Linked DNA regions of Homo sapiens: region 1 is linked to region 2. The links come from fine-mapping of genetic effects on gene expression. A gene starts in region 2. The other region holds a variant in brackets. All regions are shown on one strand. Distances are from middle to middle.

What was found. PIP is the estimated chance that this variant, and not a neighbour inherited with it, causes the effect.
Region 1: its variant is fine-mapped to the expression of DHX32 in whole blood (TOPMed, PIP above 0.99).

Annotation. Positions count from the first base shown.
Region 1 is chr10:125,832,064-125,837,439 of GRCh38, reverse strand. BCCIP (BRCA2 and CDKN1A interacting protein) reads right to left here. Exons shown (of 7, transcript NM_078468.3): 6 at 3,494-3,668; 7 at 889-1,336. The coding sequence ends at 1,166. It overlaps DHX32 (DEAH-box helicase 32 (putative)), which reads left to right. Exons shown (of 11, transcript NM_018180.3): 11 at 585-1,103. The coding sequence ends at 753. Among named protein-coding and RNA genes, the nearest start is that of BCCIP, 11 kb to the right of the region's middle. The variant G/A (reference allele first, on the strand shown) is at 2,809.
Region 2 is chr10:125,878,614-125,883,994 of GRCh38, reverse strand. It overlaps DHX32 (DEAH-box helicase 32 (putative)), which reads left to right and starts at 2,703. Exons shown (of 11, transcript NM_018180.3): 1 at 2,703-3,452. The coding sequence starts at 3,171. RefSeq lists an enhancer at 2,391-3,113.

The DNA of each region.
Region 1 (5,376 bases), 47 kb after region 2:
AAAAAGGAAAAATAACTGTGGCTGCTACATGAATGGAAAGGAGGGGCAATGGCAAGAGTGAGACTACTCCACTAGTCTTTGAGAGGCCAGTACAGAGTCTGGATCCATTTTGAAGGTTCCACTACTATTCCAGCAAGTAGTGTTCAAGGCAGCAACCAAGAGTGACTCATAGATGTCTGGCTTACGCAGCTGGATGTGGAGTGGTACTAGTTAAAATAAGAAGCAAAGATACCCCCTCTCTCCCCTACCCAAAGCTCTCTTAAGCATACGATTGGTGCCTCTTATATGGTGATGGGCCTTAGGGGAAATACTAGTTTCCACTAAAGGTTAGTGGTAGACAGCACTTCCACTGTGTGGCATAACACTAGAGAGGCCAACTTATTCTAGAAATGCAACAGGATTGGCTGCATAAAAAACAGAAAGTATTTATTTTACAAAGTCGGACTGAGATACTATCTGAGTTCAAATTAAATACCGGTTCTACAGGTAGATTCTCCAGGGATGGGAAGTGCCCAGACATAATGTTTGGTGTCTCTCACCACCTTCCCCACTCATAATCTCATCTTTTTGTCTTAAATAAACAGATTTATGCAGCTGGTACCACAATACTATTTCAGTAATCTGCCTCCTAGTGAAAGTAAGGACATTCTACAGCAAGTAGTGGATCACCTATCCCCTGTGTCAACAATGAATAAGGAACAGCAAATGTGTGAGACGTGCCCTGAAACTGAACAGAGATGCACTCTCCAGTGACTCCCCAGCAAACACAAGGTGCAGCAGGGTCCCAAAGGTAGCTGGATGGCTGAACTGCTGGATATGGGAGATACATGACGCGAAGACGGATTTCACATCCACAGGACGGTCTTGAAGAAAATAACACTGTGTATATTATTTTAAAATAAAAAATAGAAGTTTTTATTGAGTTCTTTAAATTACTACTCCATGCTTTTCTTCTTCTTGGAAAAGTTTTTAAATCAACCACTCATAATTTGACCAAAATTTTAAAAAACTGGTATTTTGTAAATGTGTCAGAGACACATGGGACAGAACCCTACTTTTTGTAGAGGAACTTAATCTGAATAAAGTCTGAGTTTTTCAGTAAATCTCCACTGAGTTTTCTGGTAATTTTACAAAAACAAGCCCATCACTGTCCATTGGAAATGGGTTAGACAGATAGATATTCTTTCAGTTTATCCATGATTTCGTTCATCTTGTCGCCTGGAATTAACATCACAGTTCGCAAGGGCGTCATTGGTACGTCATCAAAAGACCATTTGCCTCCCAGACAAGTGTCGCTCTCCTCCTGCACTGAGTAGTTGAACTTGAGAATTGCCTTCTAAACCAAATAAGTAACCATGAATTAAAAATCGGGACAACCCAAAGACAAAACCCATTTGATCTACGGCAAAGAATATTACGTTTGGCATATGCTTAAATAAGAATGAGAGCTAAAAAAAAGCAAAACTCAGAATTGAAAAAGTTCAAATGGGACATTCAGGCAGAAGTTATAAAACACAAACCAAGTAGATTTTAAACCCACATGAGGAACAGGGATAGAGGTGTGCAATTTCTAAGAGGTGAACAAGCAGCTAAGTGGTATTTTCATTTAATTGTCAAAATAATCTTGTGAAACATAATGAAATTAAGACTTGTAAAATTTGATATTTAACAAGAACTTGTCTTCAAACACTCTTTTCTCACTTTCTCAGCTGCTTCCTTAGCATCAGGCTTTTGTGTGAAGACAGAGTAAATCTGCATACCCCGCCATCTTAAAACACCCATACACACTCCCCCCAAATGGTCAACCTGAGGTGTTGAAGCATATGGTTTTGTTTTTTTTGTTTGTTTGTTTTTTTTTTTTGAGACAGAGTCTCACTCTGTCACCCAGGCTGGAGTGCAGTGGCGTGATCTCGGCTCACCGCAAGCTCTGCCTCCCGGGTTCACACCATTCTCCTGCCTCAGCCTCCCAAGTAGCTGGGACTACCGGTGCCCACCATTGTGCCTGGCTAATTTTTTGTATTTTTAGTAAAGACAGCGTTTCATCGTGTTAGCCAGGATGGTCTGATCTCCTGACCTCGTGATCCGCCCGCCTTGGCCTCCCAAAGTGCTGGGATTACAGGCATGAGCCACCGCACCCGGCCTATGTTTTTTAAAAATTATGTTTACTATTTACTTCCTGGAAAAGAAGGGCACAGCTAAATTTGTAGCGCTTTAGTCTTCTGCAGAAGTCTTCAAAGTGATGTGATATCATCCAATTCAGGAAAATATGTTCCCCTCAGAGATACACTTCAAGATTTTTTTTTTTCTGAGACAGAGTCTCGCTCTGTCGCCCAGGCTGGAGTGCAGTGGCGCAATCTCGGCTCACTGCAAGCTCCGCCTCCCGGGTTTATGCCATTCTCCTGCCTCAGCCTCCCGAGTAGCTGGGACTACAGGCACGTGCCACCACGCCCGGCTAATTTTTTGTATTTTTTAGTAGAGACGGGGTTTCACCATGTTAGCCAGGATGGTCTCGATCTCCTGACCTCGTGATCCACCCGCCTTGACCTCCCAAAGTGCTGGGATTACAGGCGTGAGCCACCGTGCCTGGCTCAAGATGTTTTTGTGTTTTTTGTTTGTTTGTTTGTTTTTGAGACGGAGTTTCTTCCTTGTTGCTCAGGCTGGAGTGCAGTGGCGCGATCTCGGCTCACTGCAGCCTCTGCCTCCCAGGTTCAAGCAATTTTCCTGCCTTAGCCTTCCGAGTAGCTGGGATTACAGGCATCTGCCACCATGCCCGGCTAATTTTTTTTTTTTTGTATTTTTAGTAGAGAT[G/A]GGGTTTCTCCCTGTTGGCCAGGCTGGTCTTGAATTTCTGGCCTCAGGTGATCTGCCCGCCTCAGCTTCCCAAGGTGCTGGGATTACAGGTGTGCACCACCGCACCTGGCCCACTTCAAGATTTTTCAGAGGAAGAGAGGGTAAGAATATTCTCTGGTATATGGCTGTCCATCACAGTACAAGCTACCTTTATAGGAAAAAAATGCTGGAGATATCCCACCAGCAGGATGACATCCACGACTAAGGACACAGAGCAGCAGGGGTGCCCCAGCTTCCACACTGACCAGCTGTGTGATCGCAGGTAATTTCCCTCATTTCCCTATGCCTTAAAGTCCACATCTGTAAACCCCAGGCTAATGTCTACCTCTCCGCATGGTTTTAGAATGAAAGATTTCACAGGAAGCATATTATAAATGCCTAATCATTCTTAACAGGTTAATCACTTTTCTCCTCCTCCTCCTCATGCTCATAACCACAGTGCAGGCAAGGAGGCTGGTGCCTAGCCTCCTGAGTACCTACTATGCACCTGGCACTATGTTAGCTGCTAGGTCCTGTGGGGAAACAGAAAAACAGAGTAGCCACACTTGAAAGACTTGGACCTAAAGTGGGAGAACAATAAATCTTGATAAATCATTTTCAAGAAAATCCTTATTTACATCTAAACAAATAAGCAGGATAGTCTTACCTCATAGAAAAATTCTTCCTCTGCATTTGCAAACATTAACGCAGCTTTCTTTTTGTTGCTAGGTTTCTTTTTGGAATTGTTTTTTCCTGCTTCCACAAATGTCTTACTAATCAGAAGGTAAAAGTAGCACTTCCCACATGGCTTATTGGTTCTGTGTGCCCCCGCCAGTTCTTTCCTGCAAGGCACACACACAACATTTGTTTACCTGCTGGGTCAAGTGAAATCCATCAACAAACCAGAGCACAGAAAACCCGGTGAGGCATCTTCAGTGGGTTCTGCTGTGACGCAGGCATTCAATCTGAACACTTAGTCTACAGGAATGATTTTTATTTACATAATCAGTTGCATTTTAGATTATGTATTACTTTTTATAATACTATGATATATCTCTCAGATTATGCTGATTTGTGGATATATAGCAACTAACAGATCAGATGAGTCTCAAATTCACTCAATGTATCACTGCTCTGCCTGTGCATAAGTTAAAAATATATACGAATCTGAATTTTTGAATTTTTTAAAGCAATGAACATTTAACTGAAACACACAAAGGTATACAGCCACAACCAATGTCACTACAGCCTGTGACTACTACCACAGTCTCTAATTGCTAGAGTCTGGAACTAATTTCTGACATACTGCAGAAACTGCATAAACACACAACCTAAATTCTAGCAATGGAATCGCAACAAAGCCTTAATGTTTCTTCTTTCTGAAAATTAAACATAGCCTTGTGCATCTGGATGCCCTTGAACAAAAGAAGAAACTCAGAACAACCGTCCTCTTCAGCTTTCCTTTTTTTTTTTTTTCTTTTTTTCGTTTGGAGACAAAATCTCACTCTGTTGCCCAGGCTGTAGAGTACAATGGCACAATCTCGGCTCACTGCAACCTCTGCCTGCCAGGTTCACACGATTTTCGTGCCTAAGCCTCCTGAGTAGCTGGGATTACAGGTCTGCACCACCATACCCGGCTAATTTTTTGTGGGTGTATTTTTAGTAGAATTGGGGTTTCGCCATGTTGGCCAGGCTGGTCTCAAACTCCTAGCCTCAAGTGATCTGCCAGCTTCGGCCTCCCAAAGTGTTGGAATTACAAGTGTCAGCCACCACACCTGGCCTTTTCAAAAAAAAAAAAAGAAAAAAAAAAAGATAGGGTCTTGTAATTTTGCCCAGGCTGGCGTGCAGTGGCTATTCACAGGCACAATCATAGTATATTGCAGCCTGGAACTCCTGGCCTCAAGCATTCCCCCTGCCTCAGCCTCCTGAGTAGCTGCGACTACAGGCGTGCACCACTGCGCTTGGCTCACTTCAGCTTTAACAGGACTAGGAGAAAGCAAATCACCCTCCTATAAAACCAAATAAATGTGAGCTCCAGCTGATCAGAAAAAAAGAAAACCAAAAAAAAACAAAAACCACTTAAGGCACCAGAAGCACAATCTGAGCTACAGCTGAGAGAGCAGGGAGCAGGAGATAAGAAGCATCGAATCCCTAGGAAAAAACAGCAAACGTAAAGGTTTCCAGAGTAGAGTTGCATTCCTACAGCTATTTAAAGGAAAACCACAACGCAAGGGCTATGACCTCTGAGAAAGAATATTCTATAAAGAACCTGTCTAGGTCAAGTGCTGTGACTGACACCTGTAATCCCAACACTGGGAGGCCGAGGCAGGAAGATCACTTTAGCCTAGGAGTTCAAGACCAGCCTGGGCAATGTAGCAAGACCCTGTCTCTACCAAAAAAAAAAAAAAATTTAAATTAGATAGAAATAAATAAGAGAATCTGCCTATATTTTGTCCTCTGTTGCAAAGCACAGACAATACAATTCTTAGTACACTCAGTTTGCTAGATTTCACAGCTACATTTGAAATATTTTTGTAAACTTAAAACTTC
Region 2 (5,381 bases):
ACAAGCTTGTCTGGCTTCTAATGCACCGGTTAGGAGAGCAGGTTAGAAAGGCAGAGAAGAGCCTCACAAGGTAAGAGGCCACACCACACAGTGGCATGGGTTCTGAGTCCCCAGGGAAGAGCAGGGCTCCAGGAGAGCAGTCTGGTCTTTGGCTTCTGTAGATTTCGGAGACATCTGAGGACATCATTCTGTTTTGGCAACTGATGTAATGGTGACCTTGAGTCACAATGAAAAAGTTAAATTGTGAGTATAGTTTATTTAAGAAGGCAGAAGTCTGGTTATCTGTTTCTGCAAGTCAAACCACCCTGCAACTTAGTAGCTTACAAAAACAGTGACCATTTGTTGTCTCATGATACTTTGGGTTGTATGGGCTCCTGTGGATGCTGCTTCTGCTCAGTTGGCTGGGGTTGCAGTCATCTGGAGGCTCGACTGGGCTGGGGCATCTTAGGCAGCTTGTTCACATGGTTGAAGGTTTATGCTGCTGTGGACTGGAAGTTCAGCTTTGGTCTCTTCCCGGTGGCTTGGGCGTGGGTACCTCATAGAATGACAGCTGGTTCTAAAGAGGAGTGTTTCAAGCATGGGAATATCTTGGAAGTGATTCAGTATCACTTAACTGCATTATTTTAGTCATAGTGACACTGGTCACAGGGCCAGCTCAGATTCAAGGGGAGAGGAAATAGACTCTACCTCTCCATTTGGAACAGTGGCAAATAATCTGTGGCCATCTTTAATTCCACTATAACAGAGAAGTGGTTAAGGCTAATGTGTGTGGATACATTGCACAATGTGTGATGAAGGGGCCAGGTAAGTCTCAGGTCTTTAGAAAGAAGACTATTCAGAAAACTTGATTATTTCCTCAGGGTTCAAAGTGGTCAGTGCTTTATAAGTAAGAATTTACTGTAATTATAAGATTATTACACTCTTAGGGAGTATTATAAATAAGAGAAACATTTCTTTTTGGTAAAAATAATAGCTGTTCTTTTTTTAAGGTAAAACAGTTAAGAAATACTACCTAAGGCAATCATTGGTTATAATATTTAATAGCAATTTAATTTACATGTAGGCTGAGAACCCTTGGAAGGGATTCTAATCAGAACAAAAGAAAAATAGAATATAAAATTAAATTTTAACTTCTCTGAAGAGTGGAATTTTCTGATTCTTGGATACCTTCCCAGAATTAGCTTGTGCGATGATCTCAAGCTACCATGCTTCCTGGAGCTATTCTGTGGGTCTACTCTCACCTTATAGAGGCAGTGAAGAGTTCTGAAGTGAATCCATATTACAACATTTCTATTATGCCTTTGTAATTCCATTTTAATTTTGAAACACTGGCTTTTAGATGAATTTTTAAGAACTTTACTTGGGAAGAGCTATGAAGTTCTTCTGCCTCTCTGGTTACTTACCTCTAAACTAGCTTGTTCATCTGTGAATTTTAAAACTTTCTATCCTGCTCTTGCTGCCATCTTCAAAATATCCTTTATGTGTGTATCTAGTGCCTAGTTTACTCATCTAATAAGCCCTTAGAAGACACTCAGCAAATGTTTTTTGAGTGATTGACTGTTGCCCTGGAGCCTGTCTTGACCAATAGAGAGAGAGCTTTTCTTATCACTTACTAATTAGGAACTAGCTGTTGAGCACACTGGCTCCAACCATCTAAAGCAATAATTAAGGTAAACCAGGTGATCCGAAAAGTGCAGTAACTTACAAAATATCATGAACTGTATTTTATTATTCTTTTTAACTTGAGTTTTCTTTTTCATTTTTATCTGGTTAATGTGAAAAGGAGCTTATTTCCAGCAACACTAATGGAATTTTTCTTTTTAATCACTAGTAATTGGAAGGGGAAAGACCCTTCACCTGACATGTGGGGACTGAGTTATTGGTATAAATCTTGCTCTTTCTTGGGTGATTTCTCTTCTTCATTTAAATTAAAAGTTGTCCTTAATGGCCTCTTGGAGCTGACATGTTGGGCTCAAGACCCAGGAATCTCAAGAAATATGCTAGAGATTTCTGGTTTAATTAAACAAAAGACCTTATTAATAAAAGCCAGCCAGCTGGGCATGGTGGCTCACATTTGAAATCCCAGCACTTTGGGAGGCCAAGGAGGACAGACCACTTGAGCCCAGGAGTTCGAAACTAGCCTGGGCAACAAGGCAAAACTCCGTCTCTACAAAAAAATACAGAAATTAGCTGGACATAGTGGTGTACACCTGTAGTCCCAGCTACTCAGGAGGCTGAGGCAGGGGGAAAACAGCCTGGGAGGTTGAGGCTGCAGTGAGCCATGATCACGCCACTGCATCCAGCCTGGGTGACAGAGCGAGACCCTGTCTTTTTTATATATATATAAAATAAAAGCCAACCATAACTACATATGGAAGGAAATAATAAATTCATTCCCCTCACTTGGCTTTCTAAACTGACATAAGCAAAAGGAAAATGAAAAGTTTTAAAAATGTTTTTCATTAAAGTAAAGGATTTCTTAATAATAGATTTTCCTGTAGCCTGTGTTAGAGGAACACTCACCAGGTCATCACAGTTCTTTCCTTTTATAGGGTCCAGCTCCTCTTTTGACATGGGATTAGGTGACCACGTGATTGATTAGCCTCACAATCACAATCCTGTCCCTCCTGTTGCTTTCCATTCACAGTTGATCAAGACGCAGAGCCTGAGATAGAGGTCAGGCAGAGAGCACGAGGCCCAGTGCAGAATCATTTTCTGAACCAGCCAGGAAATACCGGAACCCACCAAACTTTAAACACCAGCCTAAATTATTCCTGTTCTTTTAAGCAGGCAGCAGAAATGACAGAAACCCGTTAACAGAAAAAAAAAAAATAATGCTTTTCATTTGAACTCCTGTGCATTTTCTTTTTAACTTATATGTGTTCCTAATTTTCCTTACTCTTTTTGTTTGTTTGTTTCTTAGTGTGGTTTATTGACAATCATTTACAATGCCGAAGAGTGCTGTAGTGAGCCAGCACAGTGGGTAACACAGCAACGGAGAACAGATGCAGGTTTGAGGAATTTAACTTGCTAAAACCTTGAACTGAAGTCTTAGAGATTGGAACATACGGGTTTGTATAAATAGGCTTTTAAGCCCTGTTTGCAATGGGTTACTGATAGGAGAAACTTGCTTGTGGAATGTCAGCTGCGTGAGCTCACTGTCAGACAAGATGGAAGAAGAAGGGCTGGAGTGTCCAAACTCTTCCTCTGAAAAACGCTATTTTCCTGAATCCCTGGATTCCAGCGATGGGGATGAGGAAGAGGTTTTGGCCTGTGAGGATTTGGAACTTAACCCCTTTGATGGATTGCCATATTCATCACGTTATTATAAACTTCTGAAAGAAAGAGAAGATCTTCCTATATGGAAAGAAAAATACTCCTTTATGGAGAACCTGCTTCAAAATCAAATCGTGATTGTTTCAGGAGATGCTAAATGTGGTAAGAGCGCTCAGGTGAGTAACCACTACAAAAAATAATTTGCTGTATGTGTTGATTTTTTAATTGTTATTTAATGACATGTCACAGCCTAGTGTTCTAATAATAGTGTCTAAAACAAAAAACAAAACATTATTCAGATAAAATAATTAAATCACGTACCTAATTTTATTAATTTTACTAATACTAGCTGAAAAGTTAATAATATCTATGTAGAAATTAATTGTGTTTAGGGTACCACTGAATTGTCTATAGAGCAGTATTAAAATTACTCAAATGATCCTAGTATTAAATTTACTCAAATGATCCATTGTGTATATGATATTTTAAAAGATGTGATGCGTGTTATTTCCTCAGCATGGGTATGGGGATTAACTGCTCTGTTTCAGTGCCCAGTGGTCTGAGAATCCAGATATGTGGATGTGCTTGCTGGTGAAGCTGGCTGAGCTACTGAAATCAAAAGCACAAGGAAATTCTGATTTTCCTGACTATAAGAAATAACTGAGCAACTAAATATGATCCAGGCCTGGGGCCACACACTTTGGGGTCTAAGATGGGGGAAAGAATTAGGATCATTAAGAGATAAACCTAGGGATATTAAAATATTAAAGAGTTGGAGCAGGCACAGTGGCTCACATCTGGAATCCCAGCACTTTGGGAGACCAAGGTGGACAGATCATTTGAGCCCAGGAGTTCAAGACCAGCCTGGGCAACATGGCAAAATGCCGTCTCTACAAAGAAGTAGCCGGGCATGGTGCTGCATGCCTGTCGTCCCAGCTACTTGGGAGGCTGAGGTGAGAGAATCACCTGAACCTGGGAAGTTGAGGCTGCAGTGAGCTGTGATGATGCCCCTGCATTCCAGCCTGGGCGATGTGAGTGAGAGACCTTGTCTCAGAAAAAAAACAAAAAAAACAAGGAGTTTGTTTGAGCAAAGAATGACTCATGAATTACGCAGCACTCAGAACCATTGGAGGTTAGTGAGCCCCATTCTAGCAGCAAGGGCAGTGAGCTTTTATAGGCTGAACATGAAAGTAAGACAAAAGACATTTAAATTGGTTAGAGTGGAAAGTTCCGAGTTAGGGAATAGTTGGCAGTTTCTGATTGATAAAGTCTAGTATGGTTTTACTGTTTACATTGGACTTTAGTTTGCTTATGTGGGACCTTCTAGAGCTCTGTCATTGCCTCAGCCTAATGGCCTCTCAATTAAAGTTTGTTTGTTTGTTTAACGGGATAGTGGGCCAGGTGCAGTGGTTCACACCTATAATCCCATCACTTTGGGAGGCTGAGGCAGGAGGATTGCTTGAGTCCAGCAGTTTGAGACCAGGCTGGGCAACATGGCAAGATCCCAACTTTATAAAAAATTAAAAAATTAGCTGGGCATGGTGGTGCGTGCCTGTGGTCCCAGCTACCCAAGAGGCTGAGGCAGAAGGATCACTTGAGCCCATGAGGTCAAGGCTGCAGTGAGCCATGTTCATGCCACTGTACTTCAGCCTGGGCAACAGAGCAAGACCCCGTCTCAAAAAAAAAAAAAAAAAAAAAAAAAACAAGAAAAGGCTGGGCGCTGTGGCTCATGCCTGTAATCTCAGCACTTTGGGAGGCCGAGACGGGCAGATCATGAAGTCAGGAGTTCGAGACCAGCCTGTCCAATATGGTGAAACCCTGACTCTACTAAAAAATACAAAAATTAGCTGGGCATGGTGATGCACACCTGTAGTCCCAGCTCCTTGGGAGGCTGAGGCAGGAGAATCACTTGAACCCAGGAGGTGGAGGTTGCAGTGAGCTGAGATTGTGTCACTGCACTCCAGCCTGGGTGACAGAGTAAGACTCCATCTCAAAAAAAAAAAGAAAACAAAACAAAACAAAAAAAAACACCAAGAAAAACAAGGTAGTGTAGAGAAGGAAAAAGTAATAATTTTCTCTGTCCTTCATAACTCTTATCTGAGGCT